Linked DNA regions of Homo sapiens. The protein of the gene in region 1 purifies or fractionates together with the protein of each later gene. This does not show direct contact. Each region holds a gene or a part of one and is shown on either strand. Other genes may lie near its edges. The genes, in order: PARD3 and DCAF7.

Region 1 (15,736 bases):
GGCTTTAAACAATGGGAAGCCATCTCTTTTTCTTTGAAGAAAGAAAAAAGAAAACAAACAATGATGGTTTATACAATGTTTTTAAGTGTAGTTAGATAAAACCATTAGATCTAAGAAAAGAAGGAAAGCAAAGGAAATAAAAATTACTGCCCTCAAAATCACTTTGTTTGCCTTGTCTGAGGGTGACTCTGGAATTTCAGTTTCTAATACTAACAAGACCTGTCTTTCTTCAAAAAAAAAAAACAAAAAAAAAACGCCAGATGGTAGCAGGCACTTGCAGTCCCTGGCTAACACGGTGAAACTCCATCTCTACTAAAAAATACAAAAAATTAGCTGGGCGTGGTGGTGGGCACCTGTAGTCCCAGCTACTTGGGAGGCTGAGGCAGGAGAATGGCGTGAACCCGGGAGGCGGAGCTTGCAGTGAGCTGAGATCACGCCACTGCACTCCAGCCTGAGCAACACAGCGAGACTCTGTCTCAAAAAAAAAAAAAAGCCAGACTCTCCAGGGTTGCTCTTCGTCATTCAGCCTGTGCTGATGTGTCAGGCCTGGGTTGGATACCAGCAAAGGATACACAGGAAAGTGGTAGATGGACCAAGCCCTGGCAGTCTCAGAATCCACATTCCAGCAAAAGAAAATCAAAGAGGAAACCATGATAGTGTGACAGCTGCTGGGTGAAGGGGAGTACACGGGGCTATGAAAATCCTTTGGAAGAGAAAATGGAAAATGAAAGACTGCGTTAAGTCTTTGCTAGGATGAGGGGCAGATAGACTCAAGTGGAAGACCTAGAGGTGTAAAAGAGCATCCCATGTCTGAGAAATTACCAGAAACACTGAGTGGCTAGAGCAGAGGTGCTGCAGGGGCTGTAGGGCACCGATGACAATCAGGCATGTCCCAGTGGTCCCCATGATGGAGACTGGTTGATCCTGGAGACATGGAAAGCCTCTGAAGGGATTTCAGCAGGGACTGACGTGATTAATGTGTTCTGTAGAAAAATTTGCCTGACTGCAGTGCAGAGAATGGATTGAGGGAGAAAGCCTGATTGCAGAGAAAACCCTCAGGGAGCTGCAGCAGTGCGCCTGGTGAGAGGATGAGGTCTGAACTCAGGCAGTGGGAGAGGGGAAAGAGGGGAGCGGCTAAAGGAAGAGAGATTCTAGGCCAGGCGCAGTGGCTCACAGGCGTAATTCCAGCACTTTAGGAAGCTGAGGCCAAAGGATTACTTGAGCCCAGGAGTTTAAAACCAACCTGGGCAACATAGTGAGATCCCATCTTTAAAGAAAAATTAGTTGGGTGTGGTGGTGCATGCCTGTGGTCCCAGCTACTAGGGAGACAGGTGGCAGGATTGCTTGAGCATGGGAAGTCGAGGCTACAGTGAGCCGGGGACTATACCACTGCACTCTAGCCTAGGCAACAGAGCGAGAGAGCAAGACGCTGTCTCCAAAAAAGAAAAGAGGGAAATTCTAGAGGTAGAAGCAACAGGCAACAGGGATAGGGACAGCATTTGAGAGGTCAAGGGTGACCCCAGATCTCTGCCTTCTACAACAGAAAGAATGTGGTGCCTTGTGAATTAGGTGCCCATAAGACATACCAGGAAATATTTCCCTAGGCAGGTGGACAGAGGGATCTGGTGCCAGAGTGGACCTGTGAGCTGGAAAGAGGATGATAGTATTCATCCTAACAAGTGGTTTCAGGCAGCAAGGGAGTGGAGATCAGCTAGGGAGCAAGAGCAGAGTAAAAACAAACAGACCTGGTGGGGCGCAGTGGCTCACGCCTGTAATTCCAGCACTTTGGGAGGCCAATGTGGGCAGATCACAAGGTCAGGAGTTTGAGACCAGCCTGACCAACATGGTGAAACCCCATCTCTACCAAAAATACAAAAAATTAGCTGGGCATGGCGCACACCTGTAATCTCAGCTACTCACGAGGCTGAGGCTGGAGAATCACTTGAACCCGGGAGGCGGAGGTTGCAGTGAGCCAAGATCACGCCACTGCACTCCAGCCTAGGCAACAGAGTGACACTCCGTCTCAAAAAAAAAAAAAAAAAAAAAACAAAACAAAACCAAACAAAAAAACAGACAACAGACCCAGAGGAACTTTGAGAGACAGGAATAATGAAAGAACAGGCAGAAAAGAGGAACCCTTAGAGAAGACCCGGAGTAGGGTAGCAGAAAACTAGAGAGAGTACATAGGAGACACTTTGAGAATGACATAGTGCCTGCAGATTCCTGGAAGGCTAAGCAAAATAGGCTAAGAAATAGCTCCCAGAGAATGTCTCCAATGTGCCCTGTCGCGACTAATGTTAGGGAAATACAGGGCTTTAACATAATACCTAGTGAAGGGAGCTGACAAATAAATTTAAAGAAAACACATTGGACCAGGTGAGGTGGCTCATGCCTGAAATCTCAGCACTTTGGCAAGCTGAGGCCAGGAGTTGGAGAACAGCCTGGACAACATAGCAAGACCGTGTCTCTACAAAAATGAAAAATAAAGAAGACATATTAAGATAATACACAGCACTTCCATGTATAAGAGAAAGAAAAATGTGACAAAGAACAAAAGATTTTCTTTTACACATTCTTACCTTCCCTAACTAGAAATTAAATATGCAAACCTTGGATTTAAAGATGAGATAGCAAAATACAGTTTTCTGATTGGCAAAGACTGGACTATACAGCTGATTAAAAGACCTAGAAAGAAAACTCAGCACATTATTTTGGCTTGAGATTTGTTCAGGACAGCAGGATGCCCTGTGCTTATATCAATATTTACTATAACATAATTTACACATACCCTCCCAGTGTGCAAAGGAGAAGGTTTTCCTAAGGTAATGCATAAGTACAACAGCTGAAAAATCATGTCTTATACCTTACTGGAAGCTGAATTGAGATCTTCTGTCTTCATGTAATTCTTTAGTTAAACCCTATCAGTACAAAAGGGTTCTTGCTAGTATTACAAAGATAGCACAGCACTCATAAGATTTTTTGATATAATTGCTTTATAAGCTTATGCTGTCCTAAGAAATAGTAATAACCAGCAATGTATGAAAATGATACCATAAGGAATATTGAATATTAAAGTCTATTACTGTCTACTGCAGCTGTTTCCTTACTTAAATCATATTCATTCACAAAAATTCATATGGAGAAGTGAATAAAACACAGAGATATTTCAGGGGGATTCCAATTTCACATCTCTTACAGGGAATAAAATCAGTGCTTTTATCAAAACATTTTCAGGCAGGTACAGGTTTACTTTGTCACTATTTGGGGGGAACAATAGGGAATAATCTGAATCAGATAAAAGCAGAACACTGATCTTCAGTTCATTTCTGCATTTTAAGTCCTCCTGTAGCATTCAATGTTTTCTGTGAAGGAAAACATTGAGAAGGTGTTAAAAATTTTAATTGGTCTCTAAAAGACTAAGGTGATACGTTGTCCAGTAGAATGCATGCCATCTGTCTTATTCACTGCTATGTCCTCAGGATCTAACACATTTTCTGATACACATAAGATGCTCAATAAATATCTGTGGAATGAAAACTGTCCTGTGTAATGGGAAAGTATTCAGGTGGCCAAAATAAAAAGGCCTAAAAGAGAATGATATGTTTTGTAAACTTACAGTTGAGATGTTTTCATATAGTGCTTTGTGGGACTTAAGTTAAAAGATCAGCTAATGATTTTGCAATGAGTAAAAACTACTATTCAATCAGTCCAGGAGGGACGGAAAAGAGAAAAAAATATCAGTCCAGCATCCTACTGTGAGGGATTAGCTTTTATATTTATCTTACATAAATGAATGTTTGTATGTCCCACTCTTCTCCACTCTGAGATTTTTTAGTTAAGGTTATGTTGTTCTCTTGATATCGCAATTAATTTGTTGATTACTGTTAACTCATTCTACATTTGGCAAATAAAAACAACAAAATAATTCAGTGGTCAGTGATCTTTCAGAATACGTCACCTCTATATTGACTACCAACTGAGCTCGAGAGTATATTTTCTCTGTAAAATATGCTTGTATCATAGGTTCAGATGAGTGGTCACTGCAACCTGAAAACGGTGCTTTATGTGTTTATTAAACAGAAGTTTAAAAATTAAGAAAAACTCTTAAACAACTTAGGTATAATTTTCAGTTTGTATTATTTGCTAATCATTTTATCTTAGTTGATTTGATCTTAAAATGTGGGAATCTGAACATTGATTTAAGAAAAACTTCACATTTTCAACAGCTCATTTTGCACATGGGCAAGTCTGACCTATTTTCTACAGTTGGCACATAATTTATAATGGATCCATGAAATTTAGCTTTTTTCAAGCTCCAATATTATCAAGGCAACATATAATTTATTTTTAACTTTCAAATGTCCTATTATACAACAAAGTATGTTTTTCCATATTTGGGAAAATAGATGATCCTACCTTTCAAGAGAGGATGCCCTGTGTCCTCCTCACCCCTAATTCCAAACTGCAACATACATTTAGAACAAGCAGAGTATAATACAATACAGATCACTGAAAAAGGAGGCATTCTAAGAGAACAGACTCAATCCCATAGAGAAAGAGAAAATGGGGACTGAGGAAAGAGAGGGAGGTATATGCTATTGATAATCTCACAAGAGAACACCATCATCTAAGAAAGCCAGACTGTGGGCCAGGTGCTATGGCGCGTGCCTGTAATCCCAGGACTTTGGCAGACTGAGGCAGGAGAATCCCTTGAGCCCAGAAGATGGAGGCTGCAGCGAGCTGTGACCACAACACTGAACTCCAGCATGGTCAACACAGTGAGATCCTGTCTCAAATAAAAAAGAAAGGACAGGGAAGGAAAGACTGTTCCCTACTAGGGGCTTTGTAAGAGGCATCCCATTTTAAATAAATGAATAAGCAACTGTTTCTCTGCATGATTCACCTCCCAGGTATAACTCTGCCAACTAGAAGAGAAACTGTTGGCTCTGAGAAGGAAGATGTGACCCTGATTTCAAGAAAAAATTCAGCTAAAGGGGCTTTTGAGATCCCAGTGTTTCCTGCTGAGTTGGCAATAGGAGTATTAATGTCCACTTAGGAATATGTTGATCACAAGAATTAAGAACACAAACCACAATCCACCTACAAAATAATAAAACTACAATAAGCAAAGATAATTTATGGTCTTTTGATGTAAGGTCCTGGAACCTAATACCCTTTGCCCAAAATTAGGACAGAAATGTAGTTTATTTACAATTTTAGATACTAGCACTTTTTTGCATTTCTTACCTCATTGCACTTGCTTATTCTCCTTGCAACAATAAGCTGGATCATTCCTCGTTTATTGCCTTCAGTAGACATAGACCTTCTTAGGGTTTCCATGGCATCTTGGTTTGTCTTGCCCAACAGGGATTCTCCATTTACTGCTATCAGTTGATCATTCACCCGAAGCCTTCCATCCTGGGAAGAAAACAGGTAAAAATAAGTGCTATTAAACAGACTGCTATAAAAGAAGTAGCTTTTCCTTTAGTTAATAAATAAAATAAAAACAAAGCAAAAAAAAAAAAAGTGGGGAGCTTTAATCCTAATGGATTATGCCCAATTGAACGCTGGCATAATAACGTCTAAGCAGCTATTGTAGCCTGTGTCTATTTCAATCATTTATACATTTGTAAATCAAGTCATTATCATAATCTGTTTACCAAAATAGCATACTAATTCAAAGGACACAAAGTGATTACTTTCTTGCTTCCAGAAACACCCATAGAGGTTATTTAGAAACCAAGACATGTAAAAGCTCAAGGCTATTAGACAGTTGCAGAGAACTGTCCCCTTAACAAATGGCCAGGAAATTTTCTCTAGGCTGAGAAATAGAGTAAGTGACCCACAAACAGGGGAGGGGAGGGGAAAGATTAACGTCTACTATACGCCCATTCTGTGACAGGACCTATGCCAAGTCTTTGCATTGATTAACTTCATTTAACTAGCATGTCAATGGGTTGTATGTTCTGTGAGAGAAAAAATGAAAGGTTGAAGTTATGGACTCCATCCCCACGTGACACATCACTGATACACCTAGTTGTTTAAATGTGAATGTGGGTACCATAAAGAAATGAGAAAACTTCTGTTAACTGTATATGTTTCCAAAATAGGAACAGGGTTGAAATTAAAATTTTTGTTAATAGGCATACGCATGATAAAGTTGACACTCACTTTAGATGCTGCTCCTCCATTAATAATGGACTTGACAAAGATTCCCAAATCTGCGTGGTTCTCTTTTGACCGGTTACCTTTGACACTGACACCAAGGCCTGCAGATCCTGAATCATTAAGTGGGACTTCAAATGTCAGAAATTCCCTGGTGCCATCAGGTGTAAGAACAATATCCTCATCTTCTGCTTTCTAATAGGGAACAAAATTGCACAGCACATTATAGTCCAATGTTTCTTTCTCAAAGTTATTTTTAAAGACTGCTAATGAGCAGTTCCTTAATCATAAGAGGCAAAATATTTCCATGAAGGTTCCACAGCAAGATCCATGAAAACACTACATCTGCACCCACTCCAGAAGATTCTTGGAACCAGCTGTTAATATTTTTATGTAGCAATTATTCAATATTGAACCAAACTTAAATCAGATTTGAGAAAGATAGAGGGAAAATGTAGTGGAAGGACTAAAGACTAGTAGATTTCTAGAGTTCGGGATTTTTTTGGTGTAATCATATATTCTAAACGACAAGAAAAACAGTAACAATGGGAGTAAAAATAAATAAATATAATTCATTTATCTCCCTTTTTATGAGGAAATTCTGAAGTTATCAATATATTTAATGTTCACTAATGGTGTTTATTCACAAAAAATAACAAATCCTGATCATACAAAATCAGCAGAAAAAGGTATATGGGTTCAGAGAGCCTCTAAAGAATTCTAACATCAACATCTGTGAGACAAAGTAGAGATATACAACATCACAGAAAACTTTTCCACAATATTGTAGCATACATAATATAGCTGGTAAATATTATTCAGGTAATCTTGTTTAATTAGTTAAGATTTAACTTCATAGTCACCAAGCATAGAAGGAAGACTTTTTAAAATAAAAAACATTTAGGATATACAAATTATTGTTCACCTCCCTTAAAACAGAGGAAGAAATGAAAGCTTAATGTAGAACTGAATAAAATGCATTAAGATGACAGCCTATCATTAAGAAAGCCTACACTCCAGAAGAGGAAGCACTCAGCCTTCTGAGCTCCTCCTCCTCAGCAATCCCGCCCATGACCAAGATTTCCACCATCTCTATACTGGTCATGTCCAAATCAGTAAGGCTAGGATGCTTGTTCAAGCACAAACTCTTGCTCCAACCACATAACAGACACGTGGCACAGGCTCTTCAAGTAAAAACTGAATGGCACATCTAGTCCTACAACCTATTTCTCCTCCTCTTTTCCCACGTTTGAAATATTTCTCCAGCATCTGTTTAGTCATTCAAGCTTGACTTATCAAATTATAATTGAAGAATAAGAAATACAGTGGTACACAGATATGTAGGAATATATACTTTAAACAGATTGTGCTTTTACAGAATGTTCAATAACACAAAAAAAGTAGGTGACTGCATCCTACCAAATTTTTAAAATGTCCTAATAAGAATAAAAATCAACCCAAGGAATTTGGAATTCAAGGAAATTTGGAATGCAAGGAATTTGGGGCATAAACATGCAATCTCAGATGTCTCAATTAGATAAAATACATTTTGAGAGTACACTATCTGTAAGTGAATTTTTTAGATCATCATAAAATAAGCAATATGCTATTTATAAATCTTTAGACCCATAGTAATGTGATGTTTCTAATTTACAAATATGTAAAGTTAACATTTTATGGTAGGACATCTTTGTGCTATCTCAAAGGATGGCCTGATAGTTTTTAAAGACAAGTAACACTTCAATTACAATAAACTTGCTAATGGGTTAAAAAAAAAATTAAAACTTATATAATGAAGAACTCAAAATAAGAATCTGAAAAAATACAGAGTAATAGTCATGTTAACTATGCAAAGTAAATACATTTATGATCAAAGTCCAAATAAAGCCTTAAGCCTGCTCATCATAAAAACTAGATTTAAAATATTCCCAGGCTGGGCGTGGTGGCTCACGCCCATAATCCCAGCACTTTGGGAGGCCGACGCAGGTGGATCACGAGGTCGAAGCAGGTGGATCACGAGGTCAGGAGATCGAGACCATCCTAGCTAACATGGTGAAACCCCATCTCTACTAAAAATACAAAAAATTAGCCAGGCGTGGTGGCGGGCACCTGTAGTCCCAGCTACTTGGGAGGCTGAGGCAGGAGAATGGCGTGAACCTAGGAGGTGGACCTTGCAGTGAGTGGAGACCATGCCACTGCACTCCAGCCTGGGCGACAGAGCAAGACTCTGTCCCATAACAAAAAATAAAATAAAATAAAATATTCCCAGAGAACAATTTTAGCTCAAATAAAACCAATGTATTGTGGGCAAAAAAAGATCAAATATATCAAATACTTTGATACAAAAGTATCTTTATATACATGCTTTGCTCTATAAACATGAATATTCAATATACTTTTTATTTTGGTCCATGTAGCTCAAAACAAGTGTTTTTGTTGTTTGTTTTTTTGAGACAGTCTCACTCTGTCACCCAAGGTGGAATGCGGTGGTACAATCACTACTCACTACACCTTTGACCTCCCCAGGCTCAGGTGATCCTCCCACTGCAGCCTCCAGAGTAGCTGGGACTACAGGAACATGTCAACAAACCGGGCAAATTTTTGTATTTCTTTAGAGATGGGGTTTCACCATGTTGGCCAGGCTGGTTTCAGACTCCTGGGCTCAAGCAATCCACGCACTTTGGCTTCCCAAAGTATTGGGCTTACGTGCCCAGCCCCTTGAAACATTTACAGAGTACGAAATAATGACTATGTGTGAATGAACTGCACTACCTCAATATAAAATCTGTTACAAGAATATAAAGTACGGTAAATTTTGATGTTTAAAATACAAAACAACATCAATACACATCATAGTTCCCCTTGACTTTAAATTTGGAGGTTGCTGAAATAAAAAATTATTCTGTCAATCAGTACTTATAAGCATGGAAAAGCTACATTTGAAAAAATGGAAAACAAGAATATTCTTTCTATGGACACACCTAAGTCTCATCACTCACTATGCTTACTTGCTTCAACTCTGGAAGGTTCTTAATTGTTACTTTCTGATTTGAATCTTCAGTTGCCTTTTCAGTGTTTACTGAGTTTTACATTTCCATAACATTTTACCAAGGCTTACAATTCTCATATTTTTCCTACTTGAAAGATCAGGATAAGGAGCTGGCTGCATATATGAAGAAAAATTTTAATCAAGTTGCAATATTTTCTGATTGCTGAACTCTGAACCTGTTTTAAAGAAGAGCATATTCTCCAGGGGATAGTTTATTTATTATAACAACTGCAGAATGGGAATAATCTTTTTCAGCTTTCTTACCAAGTCTTAAGTCATTATTATCATTAAGAACACTGATGTGAAACATTGTATGTTTCATGTGATATTCCACTATTAATCCATTTGGCTTTTGACATAGACAGAAATTAATGCCAGCTTTTAGAACTTAGTTCTCTGGCAGAAAAATGTTTTTTAAAAATTGTGCTCTTCAAAAATCATTTGAAATGCTATATTACTGAGAATGTTCATAAAGTCAGATAGTATAGGAATCTCCATATTCTGATGTAAAATAGAAACTAACTTTCTATCACCTTGCTATTCCATCCAAATTCTGCACCTTATCAACTGTTTCTCGAATTAAGATCTTTCTACAGAAACGCAAAAAATGTCTTTTCTTTAACTCACTCCTCATGTCATCTGGGCACAGTCATGTCACTCAAGCACACCTGCCTCACGCACATACATGTGTGTATACCTCAAGTGATTGTTTTCAGCAACAAAGCCTGTCAGTTCTTCCTTTGCCCATTTCTCCATTACCATTTGTTGTCTTTAAATGCCCAGAATAAAAGGGCACCTTTGCTAAGGAACCTGCTGAATGGGTATTGTGAAAGCTACTTACTATCCCACCCTCCAGAGAACAGCAGAAAAGATGTACATTTCTATCTGCAGTGAGACAAAGAGTCACAAGTGGGCACCATCATGGCCCCCTTTTCCTTCTTCCCGAAATCACAGTCCAAAAAACTGAGAATAGAGCTGGCCTATAGGCCCAAATCCACAGTTAATCTGCAGCAAAGGTGTTATCTATAAAAAAGGAAATAAGAGTTGATTGTGTCAAGCAGCAGAAAAACAATCATGGGAAGGGTAATCTCTGAGCCGCAACAAACGAAAATTTGGATGAGAATGTACAAAATATTGTGAAGAGAGGCAAAAGAAACATGGAATGTGCACAAATGATAGAAGACCATAAAATTATAGGAGTGAGCTCAATAGCCGATTTTTGGCTTTGTAACAAAATACGTGACTCAGCAAAAGTTTCATCACTCCACTATAAATCATTAATTTCTCTCTCTCAAGATCTGCCCTTATCTACAGAATTATCTTTTTTTTTTTTAAAGACAGGGTCTTGCTCTGTCATCCAGGCTGGAGTGCAGTGGCATGATCATAGCTCTCCATAACCTTGAACTCCTGGACTCAAGTGATTATCCCGCCCTCAGCCTCCCAAGTAGCTAGCTGGGACCCCAGGCACACCACCAAGCCTGACTAACTTTTTCTCTTTTTTGTAGAGACAGGGTCTTGATATGTTGCCCATGCTGGTCTCAAACTCCTGGGCTCAAGCAATCCTCCCACCTTGGCCTCCCAATATGCTGGGATTATAGGCAAGAGCCACCATGCCCAGCTGAGTTATTAGCAAATAGCTAGTAAATTAATGCAAAAATCCCTAGTAAATTAATAACAAAAAGATAAGCAGTCTGCATCAAACAGGAAAAGGATGTAAACAAGCCATTCACTAAAGAAAGATGAGCAAACCAATAAATCAACCTCCAAGTACAAGGTTCAATCTTACTCGCAAATCAATCAAAGGTTATCAAATTGCTCCATATATTTTCTTCAAATTAATGATATCCAACAAATACTGCTTTGCCATAGAACACTAAAAAATAAATAAAAATAATGATATTTAATACTGGTGTGGTGAAATGCGCATGTTCTTGCACTGCTGGTGAATGTAAAAAAATGGTACAATATTTATGGAAACCAATTTGACAATGCTTACCTAAACCTTCTACAGTTTGCCATTTTCTTAAGCTAGAAATATTACTTTTAGTGATATGGCCTACAAAAATAGTTGTGATCATGTACCAAGTTTTAACTGTGAGGATATTGTTTTAATTACAATAGCTAAAAATTGACATGTATGAAAGTCAGGAAAATTAAGATCTATCTACACAATGGAATGCCATTCAGCTAATAAAGTGTCTTAGCAAAATAATATGTAAGACAAGAAAGTATTTGTGACTAAGAAATTGAGTTTTACCCTTTGGACTTCCATAACTTCCAGTACACCCATCAAAAACCTCCATAACATATTTTTATGAATTAATGTCTGCCTTCAAAGATCACTAGAAGCTTCACAAGGTAGGAATTTATGTCAGTCTTCACTCGTGCCTGGGGCATGACATTTATTAACAATAATAGGATATGTGGCTGGGACATGATACATATTAGTTAAATAGGTAGACAAGAACATCTTTTTACTTATTTATTTTTTCTGAGATGGAGTCTCGCTCTGTTGCCCAGGCTGAAGTGCAGTGGTATGATCTCAACTCACTGCAATCTCGCTTCCTGGGTTCAAGCAATTGTCCTGCCTCAGCCTCCCAAGCAGTTGGGACTAAAGGCGTGAGCCACTACACCTGGCTAATTTTTATGTTTTTAGTAGAGACAGGGTTTCGCCATGTTGGTCAGGCTGGTCTGAAACTCCTGACCTCAGGTGACCCGCCCACCTTGGCCTCCCAAAGTGCTGGGATGACAGGCATGAGCCACCAAGCCAGAACAAGAAAATCATTTAAAAAAATACATTATCTTTGGCTAGGCTCACAGACACAAATATATATATGAAAAAATACATTAAAATGATGATACTGAAGTCACAGAATTACAAGTGATTTTAATTTTCTTCTACACATGACTGAATTTTCTACAGTTGATATGCATTATTTTTACAATACAAAAAATCCATTGTATACCACTTCTTTAATTCTGCTTCCTCAAAAAAACACTGCATGGGGGAGGAGAAATTGATAGAGGGTTATACAGATGGTCCACAACTTACAATGTTTCGACTTAATGATTTTTCCACTTTTGATGGTGCCCATGAAACCATTCTGTTGTTCACTTTCAGTACGGTATCCCATAAATTAGATAAGATATTCAACACTTTATTGTAAAATAACTTTGTGTTAATTATTTTGCCCAACTGAAGGCTAAGGTAAACCTTCTGAGCACATGAGGTAGGGTAGGCTGGGTTACAGCGTTGTAGGTTAGGTGTATAAATGCATTTTCATCATAACAATATTTTCAACATAGAGTGGGTTTACTGACAAATTTATGGGGAAGTAACCCCATCATAAATTGAGGGGCACCTGGATATGATGGGCAGGGGCTGTTGCTTGGGACAAAGATGGGCTATGAATGAGCACCTTAGGACAGCTCTAAAAAAAACCATGCCATGACAGCAGACCATCATAGCGTCACGCAGAATAGAAATTTTCATAGACATTAAAGAGAGAATATACTTATTCAACAAACAGAGATTAAATAATATGCAGGTAGGTATCTGAGACAATATGAACAACCATTTATATTTTTAACTAAGAGAAAGATTTTTTAAATGGAGAAATTATCATGGTTTTAAAATTTTTCTTAAATTTTTCTTAAATTTAAGAACCATGATAAACCTCTTAATAAAAGAATAACCCTCCAAAGAGACTCCAAAATTTCCTTAAGTTCCCCATTTTAATTTATCCCGTATGTGAGATGAACATTTCTGTATGTTATTTGTGTTGATATTATAAAGTTCATTATTCTTATCAGTAAAGTTCAAATGTCATATCTGGCTTTATAATGCCTTTTCTAATTCGAATGGTAGATGCCAAATACATTTTGAAAGACTTTTAAATTTTTTGCTTGGTAAAATAATGCTGAGGAAAAAATGTTTTGCACAATTATTAATCTCTAATGTTAACTCCCAAAATACTCACCCAATCAAAGAAACATCAGACAAACTCAAATTGAGGGACATTCTCAAAGTAATCTGCCCCTTCAAAAATTAAAAATTTGCCTGGAGTAATTTGTTCTTGAGAAAATATTAACAAACGTAATAGGTTAAAGGAGATTAAAGAGCCATGAGAACTTACTGCCATACATGATCCTGAATTGGAAACAGGACCAAATTCTATTCATACTTGTATTTCATTCATTCTCTCATTCATTTATGATATAAAGAACATTAATTGGGACAACTGATAATACAATCGATTTAATCATTTTCGTAACTATAACACAGTTATATAAGAAAATGTCCTCCTTCTGGCCAGGCGCAGTGGCTCACGCCTGTAATCCCGGCACTTTGGGAGGCAGAGGCGGGCAGATCACGAGGTCAAGAGATCAAGACCATCCTGGCCAACATGGTGAAACCCCGTCTCTACTAAAAATACAAAAATTAGCTGTGTGTGTTGGCACGTGCCTGTAATCCCAGCTACTCGGGAGGCTAAGGCAGGAGAATTGCTTGAGCCTGGGCGAGAAGGTTGCAGTGAGCCGAGATCGAGCCACTGCACTCCAGCCTGGGCAACAGAGTGAGACTTGGTCACACACACACATACACACACACAAACAATATGGCAGCCTACACTTGATCTATTAAGTGTTAGCAAAATAAACCTAATAAGGCCCATGCTTAATTTCTAGCTCATTAAATTTCTAACTTGAGACTCTAACCTTTCTGAAGTTAGCCTATCAAGATGGCTTCTGACCTTCAAAAAAGTTCCTAAAGAATCCCCAATGTATCCCTGTGGTTTCTGTAGGGAAAGCCCACTAACTTTCTAGAATGCATTTTGAATTCTTGAAAGTTAAGCATGTGGCTGGGCGCAGTGGCTCAAACCTGTAGTCTCAGCACTTTGGAAGGCCATGGTGGGTGGATTGCTGAAGGTCAGCTCGAGACCAGCCTGGCCAACATGGCGAAACCCCGTTCTACTAAAAATACAAACAATTAGCCAGGCTTGGTGGCGCATGCCTGTAATTGCAACTACTCAAAAGGCTGAGAAAAAGAATCGCTTGAACCCAGGAGGCGGAGGCTCCAGTGAGCCGACATCAGTGAACTTTGTTAATAAAGCAAGACAAATGCATTCTACAAATAAAAACGAACAAAGACAAATATGATAAAGAACTACAAAATGGGAGAGAACACTAGTTCCGGTTAGGGTAAGCCTCATGAGATAGGTAGAAGTCAGTAGGATTAGAAGTTGGCGTCCGTATGGACAGGCAAAGAAGGTGAGAGCAGGCCGGGCGCGGTGGCTCACGCGTGTAATTCCAGCACTTTGGGAGGCCGAGGCAGGTGGATCATGAGGTCAGGAGATTGAGACCATCCTGGCTAACACGGTGAAACCCTGTCTCTACTAAAAATACAAAAAATTAGCCAGGCATGGTGGCGGGCACCTGTAGTCCCAGCTACTCAGGAGGCTGAGGCAGGAGAATAGTGTGAACCCGGGGGGTGGAGCTTGCAGTGAGCCAAGATCGCACCATTGCACTCCAGCCTGGAAGACAGAGCGAGACTCCATCTCAAACAAAAAAAAAGAAGAAGGTGGGAGCAGCCCAAGTCAGGAGAAAGTATTTGCAAAACTGGTCACTGGGCTGGGAAAGGACAGAAGTGTCCATGCAGTAGTTAATGGAAATCAATGGTACTAAACGCGTGTTCTAGGAAAGCCTATGTATCAATCCATGAGCAATGTAAAAAAAAAAAAAAAAAAAAAATCAACAAGATCTCTTCCCACTATCTTGACTAATGAGATGGCATCTAACCCTGGATTTCTTTATTACTTGTTTATTTAAAAAAAATTCAGTCATAGTTTATCAGCCTCCAACATGGAACTCATACTGTATTACCTGAAACTATATATGTAGCTTAGCTTTTTTTTTTCCCCCCTCAACATACTAAGTCACATTAAGGAGAAATAAAATCTGCCCTGCAGATTCTGGTGTCAGACAACCTGAGTTTATGGCTGGCTCCAAGATTTGGAGTGTCCTAAGGTTAATTCTTTGTTCCTCCCCTTTCAATAGGATAATATCACCAACTAAGTCAAGCTTGTCCAACCTGAGATCTGTGGGCCGCATGTGGTCCAGGATGGCTTTGAATGTGGCCCAACACAAATTCCTACCTAAGCTTTCTGAAAACATTATGAGATTTTTGTGATTTATTTATTTATTTGTTTATTTATTTATTTATTTATTTATTTATTTATTGGCTTATCTGCTATCGTTAGTGTTAGTGTATTTTATGTGTGGCCCAAGACAATTCTTCTTCCAGTGTGGCCCAGGGAAGCCAAGATATTGGACGTGCCTGAACTAAGTCATGGACATTGTAAAGATTAAATAAGATAATCCACATAAAGAGTTTCACACAATAACTGATGAATAAATGCCAGTCATAGATAGGACTGCAACGTTATAAGCAATGTTAAGCATTAGAGGTGAAAGAAACTGTCTTCTATTTTTTGTAAGCCTGTATAAATCACATATAGTTCCTGA
Region 2 (15,026 bases), on another chromosome or scaffold:
AGAGCCAGGAAAAGCAATATCTAAAGAGTAAACCAAATCGTATGTGCCTATGGTGCTGAGTGAAAAAGCAGATTTTCCCTTCTGTAGTCTGGACAGATTCATCTAGCTTTAGCAAACAGATGTAGAAATGGCAGCCCTCTGGCCGGGCGCTCTGGGTCACGCCTGTAATCCCAACACTTTGGGAGGCTGAGGCAGGTGGATCACGAGGTCAAGAGATGGAGACCATCCTGGCCAACATGGCGAAACCTCGTCTCTACTAAAAATACAAAAATTAGCTGGGTGTGGTGGCATACGCCTGTAGTTCCAGCTATTCGGGAGGCTGAGGCAAGAGAATTGTTTGAACCTGGTAGGCAGAGGTTGCAGTGAGCCAAGATCGTGCCATTGCACTCAAGCCTGGGAGATAGAGCAAGACTCCATCTGAAAAAAAAAAAAGGCCAGGCACGGTGGCTCACACCTGTAATCCCAGCACTTTGGGAGGCCAAGGTGGGCGGATCACAGGTCAGGAGATCAAGACCATCCTAGCTAACACGGTGAAACCCCGTCTCTGCTAAAAAAATACAAAAAATTAGCCGGGCGTGGTGTCAGGCACCTGTAGTCCCAGCTACTCGGGAGGCTGAGGCAGGAGAATAGCTTGAACCTGGGAAGCGGAGCTTGCAGTGAGCGGAGATCATGCCACTGCACTCCAGCCTGGTGACAGGGCATGCTCTGTCTCAAAAAAAAAGAAAAACAAATGGCAGCTCTCTCTAGTCTGTTACTTGATTAAAGAGGTGAATTGTGGGTGGGGAGAATGCATTGGTTGTCCTTGGTTTGGTGGCGCTAGCACCTCAGATTCTGCTTTGGCTGGGCTCTCATTCCATTCATCTGAGATGCATAGAATTCTTACCACATGCACCTGCTGGGACCCAGGATTACCCAGACTCCTGTTGTCTGTTTCTGCATCTCCCCTATCAGTCTAAAGGCCCAGTGTTGCTCAAGATAGAGACTATCAACTACCCGTGTCCTTTGTCTTCTTTTCCCTCAATCCTATGGAAATCCTGTCTCTAGTTCTTTAAATCCACAAATGAAAAATTATGCCTAAAAAGATTTTTGCATGTGGATAGTATTTTTTGTTTTTTTCTATGAAACTCTGATGATCCCAGGCCTTTTACTTGTTATTTCCGCAGGTGGTGATTCTAGATGTCCGGGTTCCCTGCACACCTGTCGCCAGGTTAAACAACCATCGAGCATGTGTCAATGGCATTGCTTGGGCCCCACATTCATCCTGCCACATCTGCACTGCAGGTAATCATGGTGGGGAGAAAGAAATCTGGGAAGGATGGAGGAAATCTGTTCTCTTGGCTCCTTAGAATTGTAGTTGTTACTGTTTTCTAAGCACAGTCTTGAGAGATTTATACAAAATGACTAGTTGGAGCCTCTCCACACTTGTGAAATTCAATCAGTACAAATTTTTAGACGATCTTGTACCCTCATGGACATCAGAACATCTTCCATATATGATTTACATCATGTGTCAGTTATAGGGCTGTGCCTTGTACTGTGCCCCTGAAATCTGGATGGCACAGAGGACTCAATTCCAGGAATATGGGGAAAGGGAGGCATCCCTCATGGATATAACAGAATCTTTGGGACTGTGAAGATCAACATCTCCATGGGACCTTTCAGGTTTCACTATAACAAACCCACAGTGTGCTCTGGATGCATCGGAGGGCCCCACAGAACTTTGCCTGGTTGTGGTTTGTGACTTGTGGTTTTCATTTCACTGTTTCCCAGACCAAAGCTAGCACCCCTTACGGGCTGGGTGCAGTGGTTCACGCCTGTAATCCCAGCACTTTGGGAGGCTGAGGCGGGTGGATCACCTGAGGTCAGGAGTTCGTGACCAGCCTGACAAACATGGTGAAACCCTGTCTCTACTAAAAATACAAAAAAAATTAGCCAGGCATGGTGGCACGCACCTGTAGTCCAAGCTACTTAGGAGGCTGAGGCAGGAGAAGCACTTCAACCCAGGAGGTGGAGGTTGCATTGACCAGAGATTATGCCACTGCCCTCCAGCCAGGGCAACAGAGCAAGACTCTGTCTCCAAAAAAAAAAAAAAAAAAAAAAAAGTACCCCTTAAAAATATGTTGGGCCAGGCACAGTGTTTCAGGCCTGTAATTGCAGCACTTTGGGAGGCTAAAGTGGGAGGATTGCTTGAGGCCAAGAGTTCAAGACCAGCCTGGGCAGTATAGTGAGACCTCATCTCTACAGAAAGTTAAAAAAAGACTATCTGGGTGTGGTGGTGAATTCCTGTAGTCCCAGCTACTTAGAGGCTGAGGTGAGAGGATCCCTTGAGCCCAGGAGTTTGAGGTTACAGTGAGCTGTGATTGTGCCACTGTACTCCAGCCTGGGCAACCAAGCAAGACCCTGCCTCTAAAATAAATTTTAAAAAAAGAAAAGAAAGGCTGGGTGCAGTGGCTCACATCTGTAATACCAGCACTTTGGGAGGCCGAGGCAGGTGGATCACGAGGTCAGGAGATCAAGACCATCCTGGCCAACATGGTGAAACCCTGTCTCTACTAAATACAAAAATTAGCTGGGCGTGGTGGCACATGCCTGTAGTCCCAGCTACTCGGGAGGCTGAGGCAGGAGAATCGCTTGAACCTGGGAGGTGGAGGTTGCAGTGAGCTGAGATCGTGCCACTACCCTCCAGCCTGGTGACAGAGTGAGACCCCGTCTCAAAAAAAAAAAAAGAAAAATATGCTGGTTGTCAATGCACTTTTATTGTAGAAATAATGCCAATCTGTTATTTAAATTGAAAACAGTACAGAAGCATATTTAAGAGCAAGGCGAAAGTCATCTTTTCTCCTTCCTATATCATTTCTGCCTCCATCCCCCTCTGCATAGATGACCTCTATCAACAGGTAATGTGTCTCCTTCCAGACCCTTTTGGTATACTTTCAGGGATGTACATCTATGCCCCCAAATACAACTATATACTTCTTCCTTTTGCACTGATAGGATTCTGTCCTAGTCCTGTGATGTTTTGCTCCTTAACTTTTTTAGTGTGTTTTTTTTCTTCTCCTCACTAATCAGGAGCCTTATAATGGACAAGGTTTGTTATGGAGCCCAAGAAGCAATGTACTCTGGTGTTTTTCTGCCATTTGAGCATTATTTGGAAGGCATGAAGCTTTTCCTGATTTTGGCCCTCTGCTCATGCCTGTATGTCTCCTTGAAGAGCAGCTGGGGGCCTGCTGCTGCCTTCTGTACCTCAGATTGTGGTCTGTCTTCTTCATTATTGCCCTCTTTTTTTTTTTTTCCCAGGGGTGTGGATAGGGAGGGATAGAAGAAGCAGAAAAGAAAGGTGTCATCCATTATTCATGGAAAGCAGGACTGGCCCCGTAGAAGCCCCATTTTCTGCTCCTGGCTGCTGCCTTTGTCTGGCTCGCTGTTGTTTTGTGTGTTGCACCTGCCTTGAGCCCCTTCAACCGAAGGAGCTGTTGCTCAAGTGTGCTCGGTTGAGCATTGAGGAAAAGGGCCTTAGTGCTCTAGAGGTGCAATTCCCTGACCTCTTGGCATTGATTGTCCCTGGGAGAGGGATCTTGCACCTGGCCCAGACTATGCGGCCTTGGCAGGAGACTAGTATTGCCCACAATTAGTCTATTAGGGTTTAGTTTATTCAGATTTTCTTTGTATCTGAGACCAGCTTTCATCAGAATGCATGGCAGAGTCAGGGTACACTGCAGCTCTGAAGGCCATTGCCTTATTTTTTTCTTTTTTAAAAATTAACTTACTATTTTGATTATAAAAGTAATATAGGCCAGGTGCGGTGGTTCATGCCTGTAATCCCAGCATTTTGGGAGGCCGAGGCAGGAGAATCGCTTGAACCTGGGAGGCTTTGGTTGCAGTGAGCCGAGATTGCACCATTGCACTCAAGCCTGGGCAACAGAATGAGACTCCATTTAAAAAAAAAAAAAAAAAAAAGTAATATGAGCACATTACGAATCACTTAGGAACTAGAGAAAAGTAAACATAAATCCTAACCTTGCCATCTTAGTATTGCCATCATTCTCATTTTAATATATTTCCTTCTACTTATTTTTCATGTGCTTTTATATATTTAAAGTGATTACCATCTTTCTGGTGTTTCCCATAGCTATTTTCTTGGATTTTTTTTTTTTTTTTGAGATGAAGTCTCACTCTGTCACCCATGCTGGAGTGCGGTGGTATGATCTCGGCTCACTGCAACCTCTGCCTCCCGAGTTAAAGCGATTCTCCTGCCTCAGCCACCGAAGTAGCTGGGATTACAGGTGTGTGCCACCACACCTGGCTAATTTGTATTTTTTTTTTTTTTTTAGTAGAGATGGGGTTTCACCATGTTGTCCAGGCTGGTCTTGAACTCCTGACCTCAGGTGATCCGCCTGCCTCAGCCTTCCAAAGTGTTGGGATTACAGGTGTGAGCCACCATGCCTGGCCAGGAAAGAATTTTTTAACAGCACATATCAGCACTACTTTATCAGTCTTCTATATAACACCTCACTGAAGCATAAATGTCCATCAAACAGGGAAGAAACGCTCTCATTATATTGAATGATCAGAGAATGATCTTTGTAACCACTCAAGTATTTTAAGTGGCTGCAAATGACATGTTTGGTATCCCCTTGTCCACTCCTGATACCTGACCCAGATGAGAAGGACTCATTAGTGCAGTGGATAGAGCCTGGGGACATCTGGGAGATGGAGTCAGGGCCTAGATTTGAGTTCTGGCTCTGCCACTCACTTGGCTGAATAGCTGTGTGATTTGGAACAAGTGCCTTAACATTTCTGAATCTCGATTTCCTCATCGATAAAATGGGGGCTTAAAATAGAACCGCCATCACGGGGGTGCTTTGTAAACTGTGACTTGCTCCTGAAATGCAGGGATCATCATCCGCATTGCCTCACTTGTGACCTTGCTTGCTGGCTTTCTTTGTCCCTAGCGGATGACCACCAGGCTCTCATCTGGGACATCCAGCAAATGCCCCGAGCCATTGAGGACCCTATCCTGGCCTACACAGCTGAAGGAGAGATCAACAATGTGCAGTGGGCATCAACTCAGCCCGACTGGATCGCCATCTGCTACAACAACTGCCTGGAGATACTCAGAGTGTAGTGTTGGTGGCGCTGTGCCCACGAGGCAGGGGCTTTTGTATTTCCTGCCTCTGCCCCACCCCCAAAGTAAGAAGAAACATGTTTCCAGTGGCCAGTATGTCTTTCATTGCTTTGCACCCACTGTTACCAGAAGCTGCTCTAGGAGTTCCTGGCCAGTCACCCCATCGCCCTCTGTGGCAGACTCAGTGCTGTGTGGCGCCTCCTCAGCCCAGGGCTGAGTTTTAAGATTTTCTCTCCTTTCCTCTTCTCCTTTGGTTCCTCAATTAAAAAATGTGTGTATATTTGTTTGTCAGGCGTTGTGTTGAGGAGCAGTTCACGCACTGGCTGTGTCTATTCCTCTGCCCAGGTGTCTCTGTTTGCTGCCCAAGGCAGCAGTTCATGTCTCGTCCATGTCCATGTTCGTGTTAGCACTTACGTGGGAACAAATACCAATTTGTCTTTTCTCCTAGTATCAGTGTGTTTAACAAATTTTAACTTTGTATATTTGTTATCTATCAGGCTAATTTTTTTATGAAAAGAATTTTACTCTCCTGCTTCATTTCTTTGTCTTATAGTCCTCCCTCTTTGCACCTTCTTCTCTTCCCTCAGTGCCTGGAGCTGGTACTGGGCCCCTGGCCCCATGAGCAGTTTGCCTTCTTGAGTCACTGCCTGTGTAGTACATACCTGACCGGGAGTCCAAACCACCTTGGTGCTCTGAAGTCCACTGACTCATCACACCTTTCTTAGCCTGGCTCCTCTCAAGGGCATTCTGGGCTTGTAAACAGACATAGGAAGCCTCTGTTTACCCTGAAGCACCACTGTCCAGCCCATTGGTTCCCACTGGCAGCATGGTAGAGCTGAGAGAAACAGGCTCTCAGGGTACCTGACTTGAGGGGAATCGTTTCATGAAGCTGAACTTCAAGCATATTTCCAGTACATTCTTTCAGAGTCTGTTTTTCCATCCAAATATAAGCCCCAGGCCATTCCACTTAGTGTCTTTTCAATGATAGGCAAGAATGATATCTGAGTTGAACTTCGGTGCTTCTGTTGTTTGAGTTTACTGTGCCTGGTGGTATATTGGGCATTCTTTGGATTGAGTGTTCTGAGGTGAGAGAGTCTTCCCGAGGCATCCTGTCTGTGCTTCCAACCCTGAACAAGACCTTACATGAGAGATGGACTGATGGACTGCGGCAATCCTGGGCTGTCAAGTGGATAGATAGTTAAAAAGCATTATACTGTGGGTAATGAAAAGGGAGGAAAAAAAAAGAAGGAAAAGGAATTATAGACCCCCAGGGTCAGCCAGTTAAGAGCTCTACCCACACCTGTCAACCCCTCTCTCCCCCAGTTTAGGTTCTGAGCAGTATTGGACTTGTAGCCTGCAGTTGTCTTTTGACTTGCAGGCCGCAGGTGTCTTTCTGTTATGTGAATGAGTTCCATGGAGGGGCATATGTGTGATTCCACCGTTAGATGAGCCCTTGGGGCAGGCAGTTTGGGATGTGCTCTTGGGGGAAAGTTGGCTGTTTCCTTGCGCTCTGCTCCTACCCGAAGGTTTTTAAGTCCCTCTGAATTGCTCATCTGAGATTAGTAGAGTAGCAGGCCTGAAGGATGATGGTTTTGTCCTCTTTGGTTCTCACCTGCTTGAGAAGTAAAACAGTAACTTTGTTCTTCTGGGCCCTTAAGCTTTTTTGGTTAAGTCTTCCTTTTCAGAAGTAGATGTCATTATATGCCAAAAGTCTAGCTCTTTGCTTTACCATACAGGGACCTGTCCCAAAGAAAAAGGCTCTTTTTTTAGCCAGCATATTTCCCCTTCTACCCTTTTACTTTGTTGTTCTGATTTTAGGACTCTGGCTGGCCATGTGCTTGTGGTTGCCTCTCCTGCATTTGCCACTGGATTTGCACTGCATCGTTTGGAGATACAAAGCGAGCAGTTCTTGGTCAGAACCCTCCTCTGCTTTTCATTGTGTTTGATAATGGTTACTGGGTCCTTCTCTCAAGGGTAGCAAGGCCAAGCTGATGGCTGCTTGTTTAGGAGGCCATCAGTTCCTTCCTGTGGAGAAGGGTCTGAAATGGAAGTCAGTGGTAGAAGGGGCTGGTCTGCTGGGCAGGGCTTACATCCACTGAGTTCTAAGATTCCTTTCCTGATCTGCACCTACGCCTGGTCTGTATGGTGGAATTTGTCAGCTGGAACTCAGAAACAACAACTTGAAAAAAAAATAATAATTAGAACATATTTGCATAAGATAGCTATTTACTCTGGAAACCAACAACTTTTGAGATTTCCCTTGCCCTGTGGACGCCCAGCTCCTGTCATCCTTCCTTAGGTCCTGCAGTACAGTCTTCCCCTGAATGCCACCGGGGACCCAGGGGGACTCCACCCCCCTAAGCAAGCACACACATACTCACAGTTGATGAGTTGCTGGTCTTTGAGTCCCAGCTCTCTTACCCTCCCTTTACTCCACCAGCCCGACGACCCATGACTGAGGAGGGGATTTCTACAGTCTCAGGATTTAGAAAGTCTGTAAGCCATCCATGCTCCAGAAAGCACCGATCTGTTGTAGTTGCAAAAACAACTCTGTAATTTGTTGAGGTTCTCAAACTGACAGCCAGCGAGACTGGGTGGGAGGCCCTGGATCTGTTCTCCCTGACTGCGGGAGGAGCAGCCACTAGGACTTTAGCAGGAAGCCCACATGGAGGCTCCGCCAGGCTGTGGCCCAGCTGGTGATGGCCCTTTTGCTCCTGGCAGCCTGAGGCACAGCTGCCTGTATTGTCCTCATCTGTTCTGACTGAAGGATGGAGGTGCTGAATAAATTAGGCCTCAGGCCTCTACCACCAGAGAGCTGGAGAATGGGTCCACGTCATTCAAGGACCTGAATTTTTTATGCTCAGGAGCATTGGAATCCTCTTCTTCCAGGGAGGAATTAGCCTGCAAGGTTAGGACTTGAAGAGGGAAGGTATTTAATAACTGGGCGAGGATGGGTGTGGTGGCTCACACCTGTAATCCCAGCATTTTGGGAGGCTGAGGTGGCCAGATCCCAAGGTCAGAAGATCGAGACCATCCTGGCTAACATGGTGAAACCCCATCTCTACTAAAAATACAAAAAAAAATTAGCCGGGGGTGGTGGCGGGTACCTGTAGTCCTAGCTACTTGGGAGGCTGAGGCAGGAGAATGGCGTGAACCTGGGAGGTGGAGCTTGCAGTGAGCCAAGATCGTGCCACTGCACTCCAGCCTGGGCGACAGAGCAAGACTCCGTCTCAAAAAATAAAAAAAAAAAAAAAATAGGTGAAAATTCCTTATAAATCCAGGATTGGCTCTGAGAGAACTGGCTAAGATTCAGGAAGAAACAAAAAATTCAGAATCCTACAAGGTTTTGATGACAATTAGGGCCAAAATTTTAGGAGGAGATGTAGGATGCAGGAGAAAATTAAAGTGTTTTCTTTATATCAGAGGAGGAAATAGTAGAGGTCAGTGAAGGTCTGGGGTAGGGAAACATTCAGACTGTCCATTGCATGGCTGTGGAGTGAGACTGCCCTTAGCCTGGGTCAGCCTTCCTGGGCCATAAATTGGGCATCCGTGATGCTAGGTAACTGTGGGAACAAAATGACAGCTTAGAGCAGCCATGGGTGATGTTTGGTGGTAAAAAACCTACAGGCGTTTGGGGTCCCATGATTGTTCCAGACCATGACTCTTCCTGGTTGTGGGTTTGTTACAGAGCAGGAGAAGCAGAGGTTATGACAGTTATGCAGACTTTCCCCCTCCTTTTTCTCTTTTCTCTTCCCCTTGCTTTTCCACTGTTTCTTCCTGCTGCCACCTGGGCCTTGAATTCCTGGGCTGTGAAGACATGTAGCAGCTGCAGGGTTTACCACACGTGGGAGGGCAGCCCAGTACTGTCCCTCTGCCTTCCCCACTTTGAGAATATGGCAGCCCCTTTCATTCCTGGCTTGGGGTAGGGGAGACCATTGAAGTAGAAGCCTCAAAGCAGACTTTTCCCTTTACTGTGTGTACTCCAGGACGAAGAAGGAAGATCATGCTTGATACTTAGATTGGTTTTCCCAGGGAAGAGGGCGGAGCAGAGCAAAGTCACTGTGAACCCTGGGCCAGGCCCTGGCTGGGCCAGCTCCTGAGAGCGTCTCGTGTTGCAGACCCTTGCCCACTTCACCCACCTGCACCTTCTCCCCCTCTCACAGTGTCACTGCTGCTAATGGTCAAAGTCAAATGTGTGGCCACATGGGATGGGCCAGGTCCTCTCAGGCTACTTTCTGGATGTCATTTTTAAAATATGGAAACATGCAGGTGCCTTCCCAAAGAGGCTTGGACTGGTATATCCAACGAGAAACAAATAAGCTAAAGAAAGTTTAAACTCAAGAAGAAAGATGTTGACAGTCTATGTAACAGCTGGAAAGTTTATAGGCACCCACCTTTGGGACAACCCAGTGATTATGAACATGTGATATCTACTATTTAAAAGAAATGTTCTCACCTTGGGTTGATTGTGGTATACCATGTGTTATGAAAATTGTTGAGCTGAAGCTTTGAATCGATTTAGTTGAGTCTGACTCACTTGCTTTGGTTCCTGTGTATTTTACTACCCCTCTTGTCAGTGACCTTCCTTCCCCACCCCACCCAGAGTGAATTTGTAGCATGATTGTATAAACCTCTATGTAGAAAATGGAGATTTCTTGCTCTGAAATGTTAAGCTCTAACTGATCCATTTCTGTGTCCTTTAGCCTAGTATGTCTGAACTTCCATTCTTGTTATATATTTAAACTTTCCCTCTATATTATAGGTTTTGTGGCATCCACGGTCAGGTGTAGAGGAAGCTGCCCCTTGCAGAACTGTACTGTAATATTTTTCTTTTATAAATATTTTCACAGGACTGATTGTACACAGGGCTTGTAATAAAATTTTAACACTGTGCTGTGAAACAACTATGGGGAATCTCCATTGAAGGCTACTTCATGGGCACCTGAAAGTGGAGTGTTATAGCTATGACTTTCTATTTCTTGTTTCCTAAGTAAATTAAACCTAATTTTCACCCTTTCATTCTGTTTCAGCCTCCTGTATAAGAAGTACCGTATTTTCTGCCCATCATACTTTGTAATAAAACTTGAACATGTATAGATTGACTGAATTTCTTTTTGTGACGAATTCAGTTCTTCCCATTTTGTCACTTTGGTCATGTTCCATAGACAGTGGCAGTGCCCCAGCCCGAGCCGGGCAGTCTACTCATCACCTTTTATATCCTATTTAGTCATTCACTTGTTAATTCAGTGGAGCACCTCCTCTATGCCAGGGGACATGGCCCTCAAGTTGGTTGCAGTCTACCAGAGGAGACATCTACATAAATACTTGTGGCCGGGCACAGTGGTCTGTGATCCCAGCTGAGGCATGGGGGTGGCTGAGGTGGGAGGATCACTTGAGGCCAGGAGTTCAAGACCAGCCTTGGCAACATAGCAAGACCCTGTCTCAATCAATCAGTCATTTTTATTAAAAAAAAAAAAAATTTCTTTTAGCCAGACTAAGATCTAAGACAAATCTTTTTTTTTGCATTTCTTTTTTCTTTTTTTGAGACGGGGTCTCGCTCTGTCACCCAGGCTGGAGTGCAATGGCGCGATCTCGGCTCACTGCAACCTCCACCTCCCGGTTCAAGCTATTCTCCTGCCTCAGCCTCCTGAGTAGCTGAGATTACAGGCATGTGCCACAACACCCGACTGATTTTTGTATTGTTAGTAAAGACGGGGTTTCACCGTGTTGGTCAGGTTGGTCTCGAACTCCTGACCTTGTGATACGCCTGCCTCAGCTTCCCAAAGTGTTGGGATTACAGGTGTGAGCCACCGCACCTGGCATTTATTTTATTTTAATAGTTTTGGGGGAACAAGTGGTTTTTGGTTATGTGGATAATAAGTTTTTTTAATGATGATTTCTGAGATTTTGGTGCACCCATCACCGGAGCAGTGTACACTGTACCCAATTGGTAGTCTTTTATCCCTACCCCCTCCCACCCAAATTTTTAAAAGACAAAAAACAAAAAAACCAAATAACTTGCATTGTTGTGCGATAATGGATGTGTTTAGGCATCACCCCTCAGGAGGAGGTGATCACCTCTGCCTGTGTGGGAGCCACATGGGGTCAGCGAAAACTACTTAAGATGGATGCCTAAGCTGGGTTTTGAAGGCTGAGTAGGAGTTATCTGGAAATAGGGAATGTCCTTTAAGGCAGAGAGAACACCCATGTGCAAATCTATGGAGGCAAGAAAGTATGGTCATATTTAGAGAATTGCAGGTTGAGGTGGGGTGAATAGTGGGAAATGTAGCTAGAGATGTATACAGGAGCCAGGGCAGGGAAAGTCTCCCGCTTTGCAGAAATTTTAGACATTACACTTCTGTATGATCCTGGAAAACATACACAGAGAGGAGTCATCAGAATTGCATTTTAGAAGGATAGGCAATGAAAAAGTGCCTCTTCCTTCTTATAGGGTGAGAGAAAAACCCTGAACTAAGGCGGCGGCGGCAGCAGCAGCCACGGCAAGGATGGAGAGGACAGGGCACAAGTAAAGAGGGATGCAGTCATCAGCATTTAGTAATTTATTGATTGTGAAGGAGGACAGAGAAATAACTCCCAGATCTTTTGGATTTGGACAGGTTCTGATGGCTGACTAGGAATGTCCAAGTCCCTGCTAATTTCCCAAACCTATGCCCCACACGGTAGGGTGGGGGAGTTCCTATCCCACTGCTCTTCAAATGCTGTGTGTCCTGGATGAAATACTACCCCCATTTATTTATATTTTTATTCTTCATGTTGGGCCACTGTGAAGGAAGAGAAGAAAGGCAAACTGATTGGTTCCGTGAACCTGTATTCGGTAAGTACCTGCCATTGTGTCAGCTGATATGGAGCCGGTGGCAGTGGATCTGTGAAGGGAAGTATGTGCTCTTGAGAATTTAATTTTTTTTTTTTTTCAGACAGAATTTCGCTCTTGTTGCCCAGGCTGGAGTGCAATGGCGCGATCTCGGCTCATCGCAACCTCCGTCTCCCGGGTTCAAGCGATTCTCTTGTCTCAGCCTCCTGAGTAGCTGGGACTACAGGCATGTGCCACCACGCCTGGCTAATTTTATATTTTTAGTAGAGATGGGGTTTCATCATGTTGGTCAGGCTGGTCTCAAACTCCCGACCTCAGATGATCCACCCACCTCGGCCTCCCAAAGTGCTGGGATTACAGGCGTGAGCCACCGTGCCTGGCAGAGAATTTAAGTTTTATGAGTACCTGCTGGTCCTTTGGAACTGTGCTGCTATATGGTCTGACAATGTATATTTTGTGAGAAACACATGAGTCCTGCTCTCTGGTTTTTAAGGAGAAAACAGAGAGTAATACTATTTATAGGCTAGCCTATGCTGCGGCAACAAACCCCCAAATCTCAGAAACTGAGCACTACAAAAGCTTATTTTTTGCTTACACAAAGTCCTCTGGGCCGGGTGCAGTGGCTCAACTCTCTAATCCCAGCACTTTGGAAGGCTGAGGGGGGAGGGAGGGGCAGATAGCTTGAGGTCAGGAGTTCGAGACCAGCCTGGCCAACATGGTGAAACCCTATCTCTACTAAAAATACAAAAATTAGCTAGGCATGGTGGCACACGCCTGTTGTCCCAGCTACTTGGGAAGCTGAGGCAGGAGAATAGCTTGAACCCGGGAGGTGGAGGTTGCAGTGAGCCAAGATCGCACCACTGCACTTCAGCCTGGGCAACAGAGCAAGACTCCATCTCAAAAAATAAAAATAAACGTGTGACCTCCAGGTTGCTTATGGGGGGTGGGAGGGAGTACATTTTTCAGGATGGGCCGGGAAGTGGCTTACTCACTTTTGCTCCTATCTGCCAACTGCAAGGAAGGTCAAGTCAAGAAATGTAGTCTTCCTGTGTACCCTGGAAAAGGAAGTGAAGTAGTGAATAATTATGTCTCAGCCATACTAGCAAATCGGCTAAGTATCTGGACTAATAACTAATGTAATCTCATTCATTGAGAGCTGTTAGTACTGGACAACACATGGTCAAACCTAATGGAATGATATTTGTAGCCAGTCTTTAGCTTCCAAGGCTCATTGTTACTTAAGTGATTTCAGTGAGCCTGACAGCCAGGCGTCTAGAGATGGTTCAGTCAACTATGAATTTATCTTGAAAGGTGGCTATTAACTCAGACTGAGAGTTAAAATCTGCCCTGCCATTCATCACAGATGCACAGACAGATAAAACCAGCTGCACAGTTAACAGGATATAGTACCTCTATCAAGAACACACTGCAATTTTTTTTTCTTTTTTTGGCAACATAAAGTGTCAAAACTCCCTGAGTGACTACTGTTTTAAAAAAATTCACTGAGAAATTTCGTTCTCCAAAATCATAGGCTGACAAAGTTTGCTGTTTGCAATTGTATTTGTGAGAATTAAGGCTTATAGTCAGTCTTGCTTGGAGGAGCTGAGTCACTCTGACAGAGAAGCAGCCTTGATTTCCAGGCCAGGTATTGTGCTTCAGAGCAGGGGCTTCTGAACACAACAGTCCACATTTACCTTGACTTTGTACTTTCCAGGGAAACTGATCCCCTGGGTCCACTTGGTAGTCCAGCTGATCTTAATCCGCCTTTCACACAGGTCTGTGTTTCTTTGAGCCTAACTCTAATTTTTCACCTAACTTCCACCCTTCCCCATAATTCTATGACCAGTTTTTTCTTCGGTAAGACACTTCACCATTCCTCTGGTGTGCAGTCTCCCTTGTTGCAGTGAGTTGATAAGCCTAACTCTGTGAGACTATAGGTTTCCCTTGCTGGTCTCAGGCTGACTGGACTAGGGCAGTCTCAAACCTTGTTTTAGCCTCTACACTTATTTGTGATTACAAATTCCATTAATTTGATTTTTGCTTCTCAAAGTAAATATTACATATATATTTTTTTCTTTTTTTTTGAGATGGAGTCTCGCTCTGTCACCAAGGCTCAAGTGCAGTGGCGCGATCTCGGCTCACTGCAACCTCCGCCTCCTGGGTTCAAGCGATTCTCCTGCCTCAGCCTCCTGAGTAGCTGGGACTACAGGCGCGTGCCACCACACCTAGCTAATTTTTTGTATTATTAGTAGAGACGGGGTTTCACCGTGTTAGCCAAGATGGTCTCGATCTCCTGACCTCATTATCTGCCCCAAATCGGCCTTCCAAAGTGCTGGGATTACAGGTGTGAGCCACCATGCCTGGCCTGAATAAACTATTTTTAAATTGCAAAAAGTAATACTATATATGAATGGCTGATAAGCACATGAAAAGATGCTTACCATTAGTAGTCATTCAGGAAATACAATCAAAACCACAATGAGATAATACTTCTCACCCACAAGGATGGTGATAACTATAGTCAAAAAGAATAACAAATTTAGCCAGTGGCTCACACCTGTAATCTCATCTACTTGGGAGACTGAGATGGGAAGATCACTTGAGCCCAGGAGTTCTATGCTGCAGTCAGCTATGATTGCTCCACTGGACTCTAGCCTGGGTAACAAAGCAAAAAAAAAAAAAAAAAATTCATGATATGGAGAAATTAAACCCTCATATATTGCTGGTGGGAATGTAAAATGATACAACCACTTTAGAAGACAGTCTGGCAATCCCACAAAAGGTTAAACATAGTTATGATATGACCCAGCAATTCCACTCCTAGGTATATAACTAAAAGAAGTGAAAACATAGGTCCACACAGCAATGTGTACATGAATGTTCACAGCCTCATTATTCATCATAGAAGGTGGAAACAACCACATGTCCATTGCCTGATGAACAGATAAATAAAACGTGGTATATTCATACAATGGAATATTATTTGGCAATAGAAATGAAATACTGATACATGCTACAACATGCAAGAATCCTGAAAACATCATGCTAAGTGAAAGAAGCCAGTTACCA

What was found.
Region 2: the proteins of PARD3 (region 1) and DCAF7 purify together in Homo sapiens (affinity purification with mass spectrometry; 2 studies listed by BioGRID and IntAct, with this or other methods). This does not show direct contact.

Annotation. Positions count from the first base shown.
Region 1 is NC_000010.11:34,353,900-34,369,635, forward strand, and holds part of PARD3 (partitioning defective 3 homolog), read right to left. Parts: intron 6,361-15,736; coding exon 6,172-6,360; intron 5,419-6,171; coding exon 5,248-5,418; intron 1-5,247. UniProt on the Homo sapiens protein: Adapter protein involved in asymmetrical cell division and cell polarization processes. Seems to play a central role in the formation of epithelial tight junctions. Targets the phosphatase PTEN to cell junctions.
Region 2 is NC_000017.11:63,584,048-63,599,073, forward strand, and holds the end of DCAF7 (DDB1- and CUL4-associated factor 7), read left to right. Parts: intron 1-1,163; coding exon 1,164-1,281; intron 1,282-4,952; coding exon 4,953-5,125; 3' UTR 5,126-10,219; downstream 10,220-15,026. UniProt on the Homo sapiens protein: Involved in craniofacial development. Acts upstream of the EDN1 pathway and is required for formation of the upper jaw equivalent, the palatoquadrate. The activity required for EDN1 pathway function differs between the first and second arches.